Linked DNA regions of Homo sapiens: region 2 is linked to region 1. The links come from fine-mapping of genetic effects on gene expression. Tissue or cell type: whole blood. Region 1 holds a variant in brackets; the other region holds the start of a gene. All regions are shown on one strand. Distances are from middle to middle.

What was found. PIP is the estimated chance that this variant, and not a neighbour inherited with it, causes the effect.
Region 2: it holds the start of CLIP3, and the variant in region 1 is fine-mapped to the expression of CLIP3 in whole blood (INTERVAL, PIP above 0.99).

Annotation. Positions count from the first base shown.
Region 1 is chr19:36,104,528-36,111,713 of GRCh38, reverse strand. WDR62 (WD repeat domain 62) reads right to left here. Exons shown (of 32, transcript NM_001083961.2): 31 at 7,039-7,186; 32 at 6,606-6,946. The coding sequence ends at 6,686. OVOL3 (ovo like zinc finger 3) reads right to left here and starts at 571. Exons shown (of 4, transcript NM_001302757.2): 1 at 418-571; 2 at 281-345. The coding sequence starts at 511. RefSeq lists enhancers at 1-341, 342-972. The variant A/G (reference allele first, on the strand shown) is at 4,377.
Region 2 is chr19:36,030,803-36,036,995 of GRCh38, reverse strand. CLIP3 (CAP-Gly domain containing linker protein 3) reads left to right here and starts at 4,123. Exons shown (of 14, transcript NM_015526.3): 1 at 4,123-4,272; 2 at 4,581-4,804. The coding sequence starts at 4,639. It overlaps THAP8 (THAP domain containing 8), which reads left to right. Exons shown (of 4, transcript NM_152658.3): 4 at 1,404-2,012. The coding sequence ends at 1,556. The region is part of intron 3 of LOC101927572 (a long non-coding RNA gene); the gene reads right to left. RefSeq lists a silencer at 1,224-1,397.

The DNA of each region.
Region 1 (7,186 bases):
GACATAAAGCGGATCATCCACATGTGGGGATGAATCTTGTGCCCCGCTGGAAGAGATCCCTGTGGCTGCCGGCCCTGGTGCCTGGGGTGAGACCTAACAGTAGAGAGCTCACTACTAGGAAAGGAGAGGCATTCCCAACACAGAGAAGTAGGGGCGGACAGGTCCCGAGGCTGGAGGGCGTGTGCAGATGGGTCGGGGGAGCAAGGGGCTGTCAGCTTCATTAAGGCTGAGAGCAGGCAGGAGCGAAACAGCTGGCTTTGCTAGCCAGTTACACACTCACCGCTGTCCACGGATCCCTGACACTGGACGACTGTTGTGCCGGTGGCCCCCCCAGGCTGCTGCAGTCTGAGGAGAAAAGCCAGATGGTGACACTGCGTCTCTCCTGCCCCTTACCTCCAGGCACAGTGAGGGGCCCACCTGGGATATAGGCATCTCCCCGGAGCTGGTCAGGCAGATGGCCCCAGTTGGGGGGCTGTGGACGCCGACTCCTGACCAGGAAGGCGCGGGGCATGCCCTCCGGAAGGCTCTCCACACACAGGGGCTGCTTCCACCTGCTGTCAGACCTCAGCCCCAGGATGACTATCCCTGGTGGGAAAGGAGGGGAAGCCTCTGAGGAACCTCATTCTCTTCATGCAAATTTCCTGGCTGGCCCTGGGAGTGGACTAAGCTGGCTCAGGTTACCCCTGCCTGGGGACCTGCCCATCTTCTCCCAGGTTTTGGAGGGAACCATCCAGCCTCCAGGGGTGGACAAGCACTAGGACCACCAAGCAGAGCCAGGCAAGGGGAGATGGGCCTGGGGAGCTTTTGAGGATAGGAAGAAGAAACAAGGCCCCAGGGGGACTGTCTCCCAGGGGTTGAGGGTCTGTTTGCCAGGCAAATCAGTCACCAGGGGACATCCAGCAGCCTGCCTGGTTATTCAAATCACAGCAGCTGTCTGAGGACACTGAAGGGGCCCCCTGCTGTGATTGCCCTGCTCTGTAGGGTGCAGGGAGGACAGCAGATCTGGATAAATCAGGGCAAAATGAGGATCCAGGCTGTGCATCCTCAGGTAGGATGCCCCACCTCTCTGATCTTCAGATTCCCAGGGCTAACATTCAGCCAGAAGCACTGTTCAGGTGTAGCAGGCACTAAAATACTAGTTTGTTAATAATCTAGCCCCTAGTTACTGCCTGGGACAACACTCTTCCTCCCTCCCACAGTCTGGAAAGTAAAAGGGGGTCTCCTATTTTTTTTTCTTTTTTTGAGACGGAGTTTCACTCTTGTTGCCCAGGCTGGAGTGCAGTGGCACCATCTTGGCTCACTGGAACCTCCACCTCCCGGGTTCAAACGATTCTCCTGCCTCAGCCTCCTGAGTAGCTGGGACTACAGGCATGCACCACCACACCGGGCTAATTTTTGTATTTTTGGTAGAGACAGAGTTTCACCATGTTGGCCAGGCTAGTCTTGAACTCCTGACGTCAAGTGATCCGCCTGCCTTGGCCTCCCAAAGTGCTGGGATTACAGGCATGAGCCACCGCACCTGGCCCAAAGGGGGTCTCTTGACACAGCCAGGGGCTCCCAGGACCCTACCCCGGCACACTGGCCAAGCTGTTTTACACTTGATTCTTAGCCAGAAGACTAAGAAGCAATCCAAGCTCTGTTTTTTAATTTTTTTTTTTTGAGGCGGAGTTTTGCTCGTTGCCCAGGCTGGAGTGCAATGGCGTGATCTTGGCTCCTCTATGACCTCCGCCTCCTGGGTTCAAGTGAGTCTCCTGCCTCAGCCTTCCAAGTAGCTGGGATTACAGGGGCACACCACTGCACCCAGCTGATTTTTTGTGTTTTTTGTAGAGATGGGGTTTCACCATGTTGGCCAGGCTGGTCTCAAACTCCTAAATGCAGGTGATCCGCCCGGCTCAGCCTCCCAAAGTGCTGGGATTACAGGCGTGAGCCACCGCGCCCAACCTGTTTTTATTTTTTTTGTTTTGTTTTGTTTTGTTTTTTGAGACAGATTCTCACTCTGTTGCCCAGGCTGGAGTGCAGTGGTACGATCTCCACACACTGCAGCCTCCGTCTCCTGGGTTCAAGCGATTCTGCTGCCTCAGTCCCCCAAGTAGCTGGGACTACAGGTGCGCACCACCACACCCGGCTAATTTTTGTATTTTTAGTAGAGATAGGGTTTCACCATGTTGGGCAGGCTGGTCTCAAACTCCTGACCTCGAGTGATCCACCTGCCTCAACCTCCCAAAGTGCTGGGATTACAGGCGTGAGCCATTGCGCCTGGCAACTAAACAATTTTCTAAGCTCCAGACCTAGCTTACTGAAAATGATCGCGTAAGTCCATGAAGGAGGCACACCAGTGACAGCCCAGAATGACCAAGACAGTGAGAGGCAAGTGAGGCAGAGACCCAGCCATGATGGGGAAAAGAGGGGTACCTGGGGACCCGAACAGGCTCCTGATCCAGGCTACGGGTACAGGGATGGCTTCCTGGATAAGCGCTGAAAGGTTTCAGATGAAAGGGGAGGGTGTTCTAGTCAGAGGGGGACATCTGTACAAGGCTTGCTGGTGAGAGGAGTATTTCTTCATTTCTTTACATTGCCCGAGAGTCAGTTGTGCCAATTCATTTGGGGAAGCAAGGGTGGCAGTGCTGAGGGTCTGCTGGCCATGCATTTCCGCTTGCTCTCTGCAGGACCCAGAGCAAGTCATTTCTCATTGGGCCTCGGTTTCTTCACCTGGAAAATGAGACTAAGGAATCTCCCTCTTCCCAGTTTGTATTGAAGATCCATGTAGCTCACATGGAGAGAATGCTTAGCATGGGGCCTGGCATGTGGCAGACATATAAGCAGGGATTGGTTAGGAAGGTTTTTTTTTTTTTTTTTTTTTGAGACAGGGCCTTGCTTTGTCACCTAGGCTGGAGTGCAGTGGAGTGAACACAGCTCACTGTAGCCTCAAGCTCCTGGGCTCAAGTGATCCTCCCACATCAACCTCCCAAGTAGCTGGGACTACAGGCGTGCACCACCACACCTAGCTAATTTTAAAATTTTTTGTAGAGGTGGAGTCTTGCTATGTTGCCTAGGGCTGGTTTTGAACTCCTGAGCTCAAACCGTCTGCCTGCCTTGGCCTCCCAAAGTGTTGGGATTACAGGAATGAGCCACTGCATCCTGCCGAGGAATCCCTCCTCTGGGCAAACATCCAGGCCTCAGGTGGGTCATCTGCAAAATGGGGTTTCAGGTGGTGTCTCCATTTTGCAATTGTTGGCTTTCCTGCAGCCCTGACTGGGATGCCTGGCACGGGCCTGGCAGCTCAGGACCCAGGAGCTGTCCTGATGGTACTGCTATGGGGAGGCCAAGGGTAGATGTGGGGGTAGAAGCAGGGGGGGAGTTGCAGTGAAAGATGAACTGTTTTCCTTCCAGGGACCCAGTTCCCCAGGAACCCTCTCAGTCCTGTTCTGCCCTGCTCCATGGCCTAGGAGGTTGACTGGAGGCGGGGTCACCTGGGCTTCTATGCACTCTGGCTTCCAGTAGGATTTGGACAATGGGGTGCCCTGCAGGAGGGGAGTAAGGTCAGGGTGTTGATTCTCACTCCGTCCTGTGTGGGAGTCAGGGCTGCAGCTCCCTCAGCACTACCCTCTCCCTGGGATTTGCTCTTTTGGGTTCTTGTTCCTTCTCTTTGTGCCTTGTGGCCTGGGGGTGGTAACAGCTCCCAGGGTGCCAGTCCTGGGGTTCTGCACCAGCCTCGGTGGTTTCCCAGTCCCTGCTGCTCCTTTGCAAATGATCCCTTGGTTAAACTCTTTGGAATATCCCATCTAAGCATGCTGTCATCTTTCTGCTGGGACCCTGTCAGCTCACAAACCACATGCACACATGCTGCACCACCAGCAGTGGCTTCTTAACCAGGTGGTTTATCCTGGTTAAGAAGTATGGAGAAAGTATGGTCCTTCCAGGACAGAGCCTGGCATTTGGAAGAGGGAAGTGGCAGACATGCTGGATCCTCTCTGATTACCAGCCCACTTGCCTTTCTTATTGAGAGAACCTCTTTGTTTGAGCTGCAACATGCCCAGGACAGGAGAGATGGTCCAAGCACATCAAAGCAATCTCCATTCCTGTTGCCTGGGACTCATCTGACCCCAGATGAGTCTCCCAGGGAGACCCCTGGGAGAGATCTGCATCTTTTCTGCTGCCCTAGAGGGTGCCCTGCTCTGTGCCTTTGCTCCTGGTTGGACCAGGCCACCCAGCAGCTGGGACCAATAACTTGGGCCTCTGACCCTCATGTCATTGTGCACCTGGCCTCTTCCTCTCCTGCTGTCACCCTCTGTGAGCCCCCTGCACTCCACATCTAACCTCAGCCTCCCCATAGCAGTACTATCGGGGCAGCTTCTAGCTCCTGCGCTTCCAGGCTT[A/G]TGCCAGGCACTTCAGTCAGGGCTGCAGGAAAGCCAACAATTGCAAAATGGAGACACCACCTGAGGGTGTGCTGCTGGGTGCCACAGCAGCCGTGTTGCAACCATGAGGCCATAAGCTGGAGACTGAAGCTTGCTCACAGAGGATAACAGAGCAGGAGAGGAAGAGGCCAGGTGCATGATGACATCAAGGGTAACCAACGTCCCTCCATCTTGGGCCCTGAAAGCCAGGTGTTTACTCCTTGGAGCAGAAGACTTTACTATGATACAGGTTGGAAGGAAGGGTAATTCCATGCATGACAGAGGCCCAAGGTGGTCTCCTGGGTGTCCGAGGCCTGGGGGGCTGAACACCAAGCTTTGCCCAGGGATGTTGGGCAAGGTTTTGGGCAATGGTGGCCGAACTAGGCAGATGGGCCTAGGCCTAGGCAGGTGGTTCAAGTTCTGGACCACCTGGACTCCCTGAGGCAGAGTCGTGAGAAATAAGCAACACTGGATATCCCCCAAACATTAAGAGCAGAGATTTAGAAACAAACCCAAAAACAAAAAACTGTTCTGGATATTCCTTGGACTTAAATGTTATGAAGCAACAAGGCCCTGCTCCTCCTTGCACCTCAGCTCCTGCCCTCCCCTTGCTCACTCCATTCCAGCCGTCCGGGCTTCGCTCCTCTTGCTTCCACACAGATCACGTGTGGCTGCCCCAGGCCTGTGCACTGGCTGTGCTGTCGGCCTGGATGTGTTCCTGAGATGTCCTCTATCAAGCTTCAGCCCAAATGTCACCTCGAAAGGCCTTCCCTGACCCTTCACCAGCAATGGATCTCCCCAACCTATCTAGAATTATACAGAGCTCTAATTCCTGCATCTGTTTGACTGTATAGAAGGTGAGTGGCCATGAGGGCAGGTGCGTTGCCTGATGTTCCTTCTGCTACAGTGCCCGGCACCTGGGTGGGAACTGGCAGGATTTTTTTTTTTTTTTTTTTTGAGACTTGCTGTGTCACCCAGGCTGAAGTACAATGATGGTGTGATCTCAGCTCACTGAAACCTCTGCCTCCTGGGTTTGAGCGATTCTCCTGCCTCAACCTCCTGAGTAGCTGGGACTACAGGTGTGCACCACCACACCCCAGCCAAGAGTGGCTTTTTTAGCAGACACCCCATGTGGCCAGATGCCTGCTGTCTGGGGGAGCTGGTAGCAGTGCTGGGAGCTCGTGGAATGTAGAACTTCTGAAGGGGAAGCAGTTATTGGTCCCAGCTGCTCGTGGCCTGGGCCTGCTGCCAGGATCATACAGTGGGCAAGCCTGCCTGGGTTTCTTGTTTTATTTTGTTTTATTTAAAGAGACGGGGTTTTGGCCAGGTGCGGTGGCTCATGCCTGTAATCCCAGCACTTTGGGAGGCCGAGGTGGGCGGATCTCCCAAGGTCAGGAGTTTGAGACCAGCCTGGCCAACATGGCAAAACCCCGTCTCTACTAAAAATACAAAAATCAGCTGAGTATGGTGGTGGGTGCCTGTAATCCCAGCTACTCGGGAGGCTGAGGCAGGAGAATCGCTTGAACCCGGGAGGCGGAGGTTGCAGTGAGCCAAGATCGCACCACTGCACTCTAGCCTGGATGACACAGCAAGATTCCATCTCAAAAACAAAAATAAATAAATAAATACATGAAATAAAGAGATGGGGTTTCACCAAGTTGCCCAGGCTGGTCTCAAACTCCTGGCCTCAAGCGATCCTCCCACCTCAGCCTCCTGAGTAGCCGGGATTATAGGTGCAGGCCACCATACCCAGCTTGGGCAAGCCTGTTCATGGGTCCTCAGTTTCCCCTGTTGCAGATGGGGACACCACCACCGTGGACTTTGTGGGATCTAGTGTGGCCTTGGCCCAGAGGCCCTGAGCCATGATATGGCAAAGCGTGGACTGCTGGGCAAGGTAGGCACATGGTGATCACAGCAGCCCCAGTGAGTTCTCAGGCACTGGCAGGGGGCAGGTAAGAGGGTCTGGCTCCTCCCTGGGGCACAAATGGGCCCCACTGGGTAAGCACCTCACACTGGTCTGTGGCAGCTCTGTGGGCAGTGTGGGAGGACTGGCCCTGAGGTCATGGCTGCAGTTCCTGAACTTCTTGGGAGCGCTGGTCCCATGCTCTCCACTGACAGACACGAGTCCTCTGGGCATCACCTTCTACCCTCCCTCCCCACTTCCACTTGAAGAGGGCTTTGTGGATAGGCCCAAACAGACACCAGGAACCATTCCTCAAAGCTGTCAGTTTATTCGCTTAAAATACCTAAGTCCTCAGAAGCAGCAGGGCTGCGGTGGAGGGGCTGCGCCCTCAGTGCCCCCGTGCCTTCCTCCGCACGGCCTGCACCAGCAGCTCCGAGTAGTGTTCCAGCAGGGCCTGCAGGTCTGGGCTGGCCAGGGGGTACAGCGTCGGTGGGGACGGGGGTCCTGGGCTGGGCAGAGCCTGGGCTGGGGCCACACTAGTCCCCACCAGGCATTCAGCCTCCAGCTGGCTGTGGATCCACAGGAAGGTGGAGACCAGCTCAGTCCGTGCCTGCTGCTGCCCGGTGTCCACCTGGCCACTGGAGACCAACTGCAAGGGATGCCAGCCTTGTCAGGGGCCACCAAGGCCGGGCGGTCTCAAGAGACCCCTCAACCCTTTCCCAACTCTGGGGCTTAGCTCACCACACGGTAAAGGTCGAGGGCTTCTTGGAAGGTGGTCTGCAGCCTGTGCAAGATGTTCCCCACCCTGCTCAGCTCAAGGGGAGATGGGGGCAGGGCTTCAACCGGCACCCAGGGCTCACTCCAGCGGGCAGGGCTGCCCTGTAACAGA
Region 2 (6,193 bases), 74 kb after region 1:
CCCCCACAGTACCTCTGGAGTTAAGGAGTATCCGATTTTTTTTTTTTTTTTTTTTGAGAAGGAGTCTTGCTCTGTTGCCCAGGCTGGAGTGGAGTGGTGCGATCTCAGCTCACTGCAACCTCTGCCTCTCTGGTTCAAGCGATTCTCCTGTCTCAGCCTCCCAAGTAGCTGGGATTACAGGCACGTGCCACCATGCCCAGCTAAGTTTTGTGTTTGTAGTAGAGACGGGGTTTTGCCATGTTGGCCAGGCTGGTCTTGAGCTCCTGACCTCAGGTAATCAGCCCACCTCGGCCTCCTATAGTGCTGGGATTACAGGTATGAGCCACCATGCCCAGCCAGGAGTCTCAGATTGATAGTCAGTGGTTTGGACATGACCCACAGATACAATTTGTTTGGCCTCCGCAGTGCTTTAAAATAATTTATAATGGCCGAGTGCAGTGGCTCACACCTGTAATCCCAGCACTTTGGGAGGCTGAAGCAGGTAGATGACTTGAGCCCAGGAGTTTGAGACCAGACTGGGCAACATGGTGAAACCCTGTCTCTACAAGAAACACAAAAAATTAGCCAAGTGTTGCACCTATAGTTCTAGCTATTTGAGAGGCTGAAGTGGGAGTATTGCTTGAGTCCAGAAGGTCAAGGCTTTAATGAACTGTGATTGTGCTACTGCACTCCAGCCTGGGTGACACTGTGAGACTCTGTCTCAAAAAAAAAAAAAAAAAAAAAGTCTGGTCTTTCCTGAAGGCTCTGCATATCTAGCAGCACTGGGCTTGGATTCTCAGGTGATAGCAGTTGGCTGGAGCTACAGTGTGGCTGCCTCTGGGGCCTTGAAGTTTGAGACTGTGGCCTGGGGCACAGAGGGACAGTGGGGCAGGGACAGAGCTCAGACTCGGGCCTGGGGCTCTTTGTGGAGCCTGCCAGATCCCCTGAGCTGACTGCCTCTCTCTGCCTCCCCTCCTGTCATTCAATCTCTGTCTCCTACTCATCTATCCCTACCTCCCAATCTCCTCCCTCCCCAACATTCATTGTCTTTCTGCCCATCATCTCTGTCCGCCACCTGTTTCCCCACCTCCCTGTGTCTCTCTTTATCTGCATATTTTCTGTCTCCCCCATATCTCTGACCCTGTCTGTACGTCTGTCTGCCTGCACATCTCTTTCCCCCACGTGTCTGCGTCTGTGCCCCCGCACTTCTCTTCCCATTTCCCCACCCTTCTTTCCTTTCCCATGAATGTCTCTCTGGCCCTCACATCTGCTTTCCTGTCTCCTCATATCTCTCCCCACATCTCTCTCTGTTTCCTGACACGCCCTCCTGCCACCTTTGCCTCCCTGTTCCTCACCGTTATCTGTCTGTCTCTCCCGCAACTTGCTTCGTAATGTTCCCCATCTCTACCACTTCTTTGCCTTAGACAACAGCCCAGACCCTTGGACCTGAGGAATCCCAAACCTTCACCATCATCTGTGGAGGGCCTGACATAGCCATGGTCCTTGCCCAGGACCCTGCACCTGCCACAGTGGATGCCAAGCCGGAGCTCCTGGACACTCGGATCCCCAGTGCATAAGGATCAAGACAGACAATGTCGAGGGACAAAAGATAGAAGATGGAGGAGGAAAGACATTATACGTGGGCTTGGCCCAGCCCCACCGCCCACGCCTGGGTAGTAGCAGTGCCTCCCTCAAGGGCCTGGGTTCTACCACCCCACTCCTAGGGATCTCTTGAACCTTAGGGGTGACCTGGGCCCAAGTCTCTCATCAGCCCCCAATCCCCTGGGTACCAGGCTTCTGCCACCCCCGGCTCAGATCTTTGCAAATCAGTACGACAGCCTCAGAGCAGAGCAAGGGTTGTTTGGGAGAATCATACCTGGTTCTAAGGAGTCCCACGCTTTTTGCCAAGCCTGGTACTGAGTTCATGATACCATGGTGGACACAGCTGAGAAAATCCCTGCCCTCATGGTGCTCATTCTACTTGAGTAGACGATGAACTAGTAAACAAATAAACAAGAACACTGCAGACATGAGCGATGAGTGCTATAAAGACAACAAAAATTTGGTTTGGGCCTGGGGGAGGGCCCTCCAAGGCCATGTTTTAGCAGAAACCTGGGTGATCAGAAGGGGCTGGCCTGGAGCGCTACAGGCTCAGGTTCCAGAGGACGAACAACCCCTGCAGTGAGGGCCTGCTGTCTGGGATGTGTCAGGTCTGGGAGGCGGTGTTGCTATGGAGAAAACCATAGTAGGGAAGGGAGGAAGGGGTGCAGTTTTAGAGCAGAGAAGGTGAAAAGACACCAACAAGTAAGATCCTAAAACAGGGCAGAGAGGGAGCCACGTAGGGATTTGGAGGAAGAGCATTCCGGGCATCACAAAGAGCCGTTGCAGGCCAGGCACGGTGGCTCACGCCTGTCGTCCCAGCACTTTGGGAAGCTGAGGCAGGCAGATAACCTAAGGTCAGGAGTTTGAGACCAGCCTGGCCAACATGGCGAAACCCCGTCCCTACTAAAAATACAAAAATTAGCTGGGTGTGGTGGCACAGGCCTGTAATCCCAGCTACTCGGGAGGCTGAGGCAGGAGAATCACTTGAACCTGGAAGACAGAGGTTGCAGTGAGCAGAGATCATGCCACTCCACTCCAGCCTGGGGAACAGTGAGACTGCCATCTCAAAAAAAAAAAAAAAAAAGAGCCAGTGCAAAGGTCCTGGGGTAGGGAGAAGCAAGGAGGCCAGTGTGGCTGGGGTGGAGTGAACAAAAGAGGGTGAGAGGAGGTGAGTGCAGAGATGATGGGGCAGGTTCACATAGGCCCTTGTGGGCCATGGCTGAGAGCCTTGGCTTCTACCTGGAGTGAGGTGCAGCAGGCAGACCCCTCTGAGGGAAAGAGGGCTCCAAAGTGACAGGTGTTCATGGGTCCCTGTGGCTGCATGTTGGAGGAGGACGGGGACAGCAGGTAAGAGGCTGCTGCCGTAGTGCTGGTGGCAGAAGAAGAAGGATGGACCAAGATGAGGGCCCAGGGTAGCGGTGGGGAGAGTGAGATCCTGGAAATCTTTTGGAGATGGAGCTACTGGACCTGTGCATTAGAAGGATGAGGTGTTCAAGGCTGTCACCCAGCCCCATCCAGGCTGGGATGATTTGAGGCAGAGCAGGCTACAGCTCCAGGTGGGAAGCCAAGCCATGACAATGGAGCCAGGACCCTGGGCTGGCTTCAGGAGGCCTCCGTGGGGAAGATACAGGTTCTGAGAGAGTTGGAGGGGTCAATCGGCAGATCTGTTTCCCAGACACTGCTACAGGCATGTAGCATGGTGATTAAGAATCAAAGCTGGGCATGGTGACTCGTGCCTGTAATCTCAGCGCTTTGGGTGGCAGGGGCAGGAGGATCCCTTGAGGTCAGGAGTTCAAGACCAGCCTGGGCAACATGGCAAAACCCTGTCTCAAAAAAAATTCTCCAGACATGGTGGCATGCACGTGTGGTCTCGGCTACTCGGGAGGTTGAGGTGGGAGGATGGCTTGAGCCCAGAAGTTTGACGCTGCAGTGAGCCAAGATCACAACACTGCACAGTAGCCTGGGTGACAGAGTGAGACCCTGTCTAGGAAATAATAAAAATAAAAATCAGACTTTACAGACTGTCTGGTTTCAAATGTTCGCTCCATCACCTACTCATGTACTTTTGGGCAAGCTGCTTAACCTCTGGGCCCCAGTGTGTGAGCCTCGCATTATGATGGTAAGGATGAGATGATCATGATAGGAGTCTCTAGGAAATCACCCCTCTGAGGCACCCATTATGAATGGTGAGCTTGGAGAAGGGGTCCGGTCTAGGGTCCTAGAGAGAGGGTCCCCTAGAGGGTCCCCATCGTCACCACGCCCCAAGACCACTGCCCTCACCGGCCTGGTTTGCAGGCGTGGGGGAAGGGGATGGAGAAGATCTGTGTCCGCTCTCTCAGCCCTCTCTTTTGCCGTTGTATCTGCTCATCTCGCTCCTTTCCGTAGCCATCTCTTCCTCTCCCAGTGCCCGGAGGCTCTCCCCTTTCAGTCGCCGCCTCTGGCCCCTCCATCAATGCGAGCGCCTCCCGGTCCCTCCTCCTGGTCCCTCCTCCCCCGCCGCCGGTAGGGGGGCAGCAGGCGCATGCGCAGTCGCGCCCCTCCCTCTCCGCCCCCACCCCCTGTCGGCGTCTGGGCCTCGTCCCCTTCTCTCTGTCTCCCTTGCCTCCCCCATCACGTCCCCTGACACCGACACCCCATTGCTCCCACAGTCTCCCCAGTCTCCACTTTGGTCCCCAGCGCTGTCTGCCCGAGGTAAGATGGGGAGGGGGCGGCCCGCGGAGAAGGGGAGGGGCGAAGCATCCTGAATCCCGAGATAAACAAACCCGGGGAGGGGGCAGCCGCGACTGAGGGGCCTGACGCGGGAGGAGAAGAATGGGGGGCTGGGCCTGGGGGAGGTGGCAGGCGCTGGGCGCACACACCGGGGCCCTCTATGGGTAACGGGGGTCCCTATGGTTGCCCAAGATCCAGTTGCGCGGAGGCCACCCGGGGCCCTGGAAGCTCCTAGGGGCTTGGACCCTGGAGCCTGCCGGGCACCCTCTCCAGCTGACCTCTGCCTCCAGGATTTGCCTGAAGGCTGCCCCCAACTCTGCACCCGCCCCCCGAGGGCCACCGAGGACCATGACTAAGACAGATCCTGCCCCGATGGCCCCGCCACCCCGAGGAGAGGAGGAAGAAGAGGAGGAGGAGGATGAACCCGTCCCCGAGGCCCCCAGCCCCACCCAGGAGCGCCGGCAGAAGCCTGTTGTGCACCCCTCGGCACCTGCCCCCCTCCCTAAGGACTACGGTAACCACTGTCCCCACCCTGGAATCTGGCCTGGAGCGTTGGGTGGCCGGGGAGGGTGGGCTGTGCTCTGCTGGTGGTGATGGTGGGAGAATTCTGGGGAATTTGAAGGTGGTCCAGAGGAATCTTGGCTGCAGAGCACCCCTCGTTAATTCATTCATTCACCCATTGGAGAATGGAATTGTAATACTCCTAGTCTTTGACTCATGACACATCATTCCATCATTTAGTCATTCAACAATCATTTTTTGAAAGCGGCTGTGGACCTGGCTTTATGCTAGGGGCTGGGGCCACAGCAGGGGGCAAGAGAGACCCAGTCTTTGCCCTGAGACAACTCACAGGCCTCAGTAACAGCCACACAAATAGGTATTAAACCATAATGTAATTTTTCACATTTAGGTTTATATGCAAGAAAGAAAAATATAATGTAATATAAATATGTAATTACAAGACATTATGAAAATTGTATTTACCATAAACAAGCTGCTGCAAGAGTTTTTTAAGACATTGTTTCCCTGAGGAGGTTACAGTTGAGAAGACTGGAGGGTGAGTTGGGGTTAACTAAGAGAAGGGTCAGGGGAAAGGGCTCCCAGGAGAGGTAACCGCTGGGTAAAGGATCTGAGGTAGGAGGGTATGGAGCTGAGAGGGCGGCCTCTTGGAGAAACTGAAAGTGTCTAATCATTGACCGAGCGATATTTATCGAGTGCTGCTACTCTGTGACAAGCCTTATGCTGGGTGCCGGAGATTTAATCCTAAGTGATCCAGGCATGATCCTCCCTTGCAGGAGAGAAGGAGAGACTAAACAAGTGAACAGATAAATAAATCAGAAATCAGATAAATTCAGATTGGAGCAAGTGCTATGAAAGAAAGAAAAGGTGGGCTGGGCATGGTGTCTCACGCCTGTAATCCCAGCACTTTGGGAGGCTGAGGCCAGCGGATCACCTGAGGTCAGGAGTTTGAGACCAGCCATGGCCAACATGGTGAAACCCCATCTCTACTAAAAATACAAAAATTGGCTGGGTATAGTGGCATATGTCTGTAATCCCAGCCACTCGGGAGGCTGAGGCAGTAGAATCGCTTGAACCTGGGAGGCAGAGGTTGCCCAAGATCGAGCCACTACACTCCAGCCTGAGTGACAGAGTAAGACTGTCTCAAAAAAAAAAAAAAAAAAGAAAAAAAAAAAAAAGAAAAGAAAAAAAGAAAAAAGAAAAAGAAATTAAAGGTGGAGATACGATAATGACTAGGGGGCAGCTACCTGCAGGGGTAGTCAGGGCTGCTCTTTCTGAGTAGGTAACATTTAGTTTGGGACCCAGAGCATGGGGAGGAATCAGCCATAAGAGAGCTGGAAAAAGAGTGTTCCAGGCAGACAGCAGCAAGTGCAAAGGCCCTGAG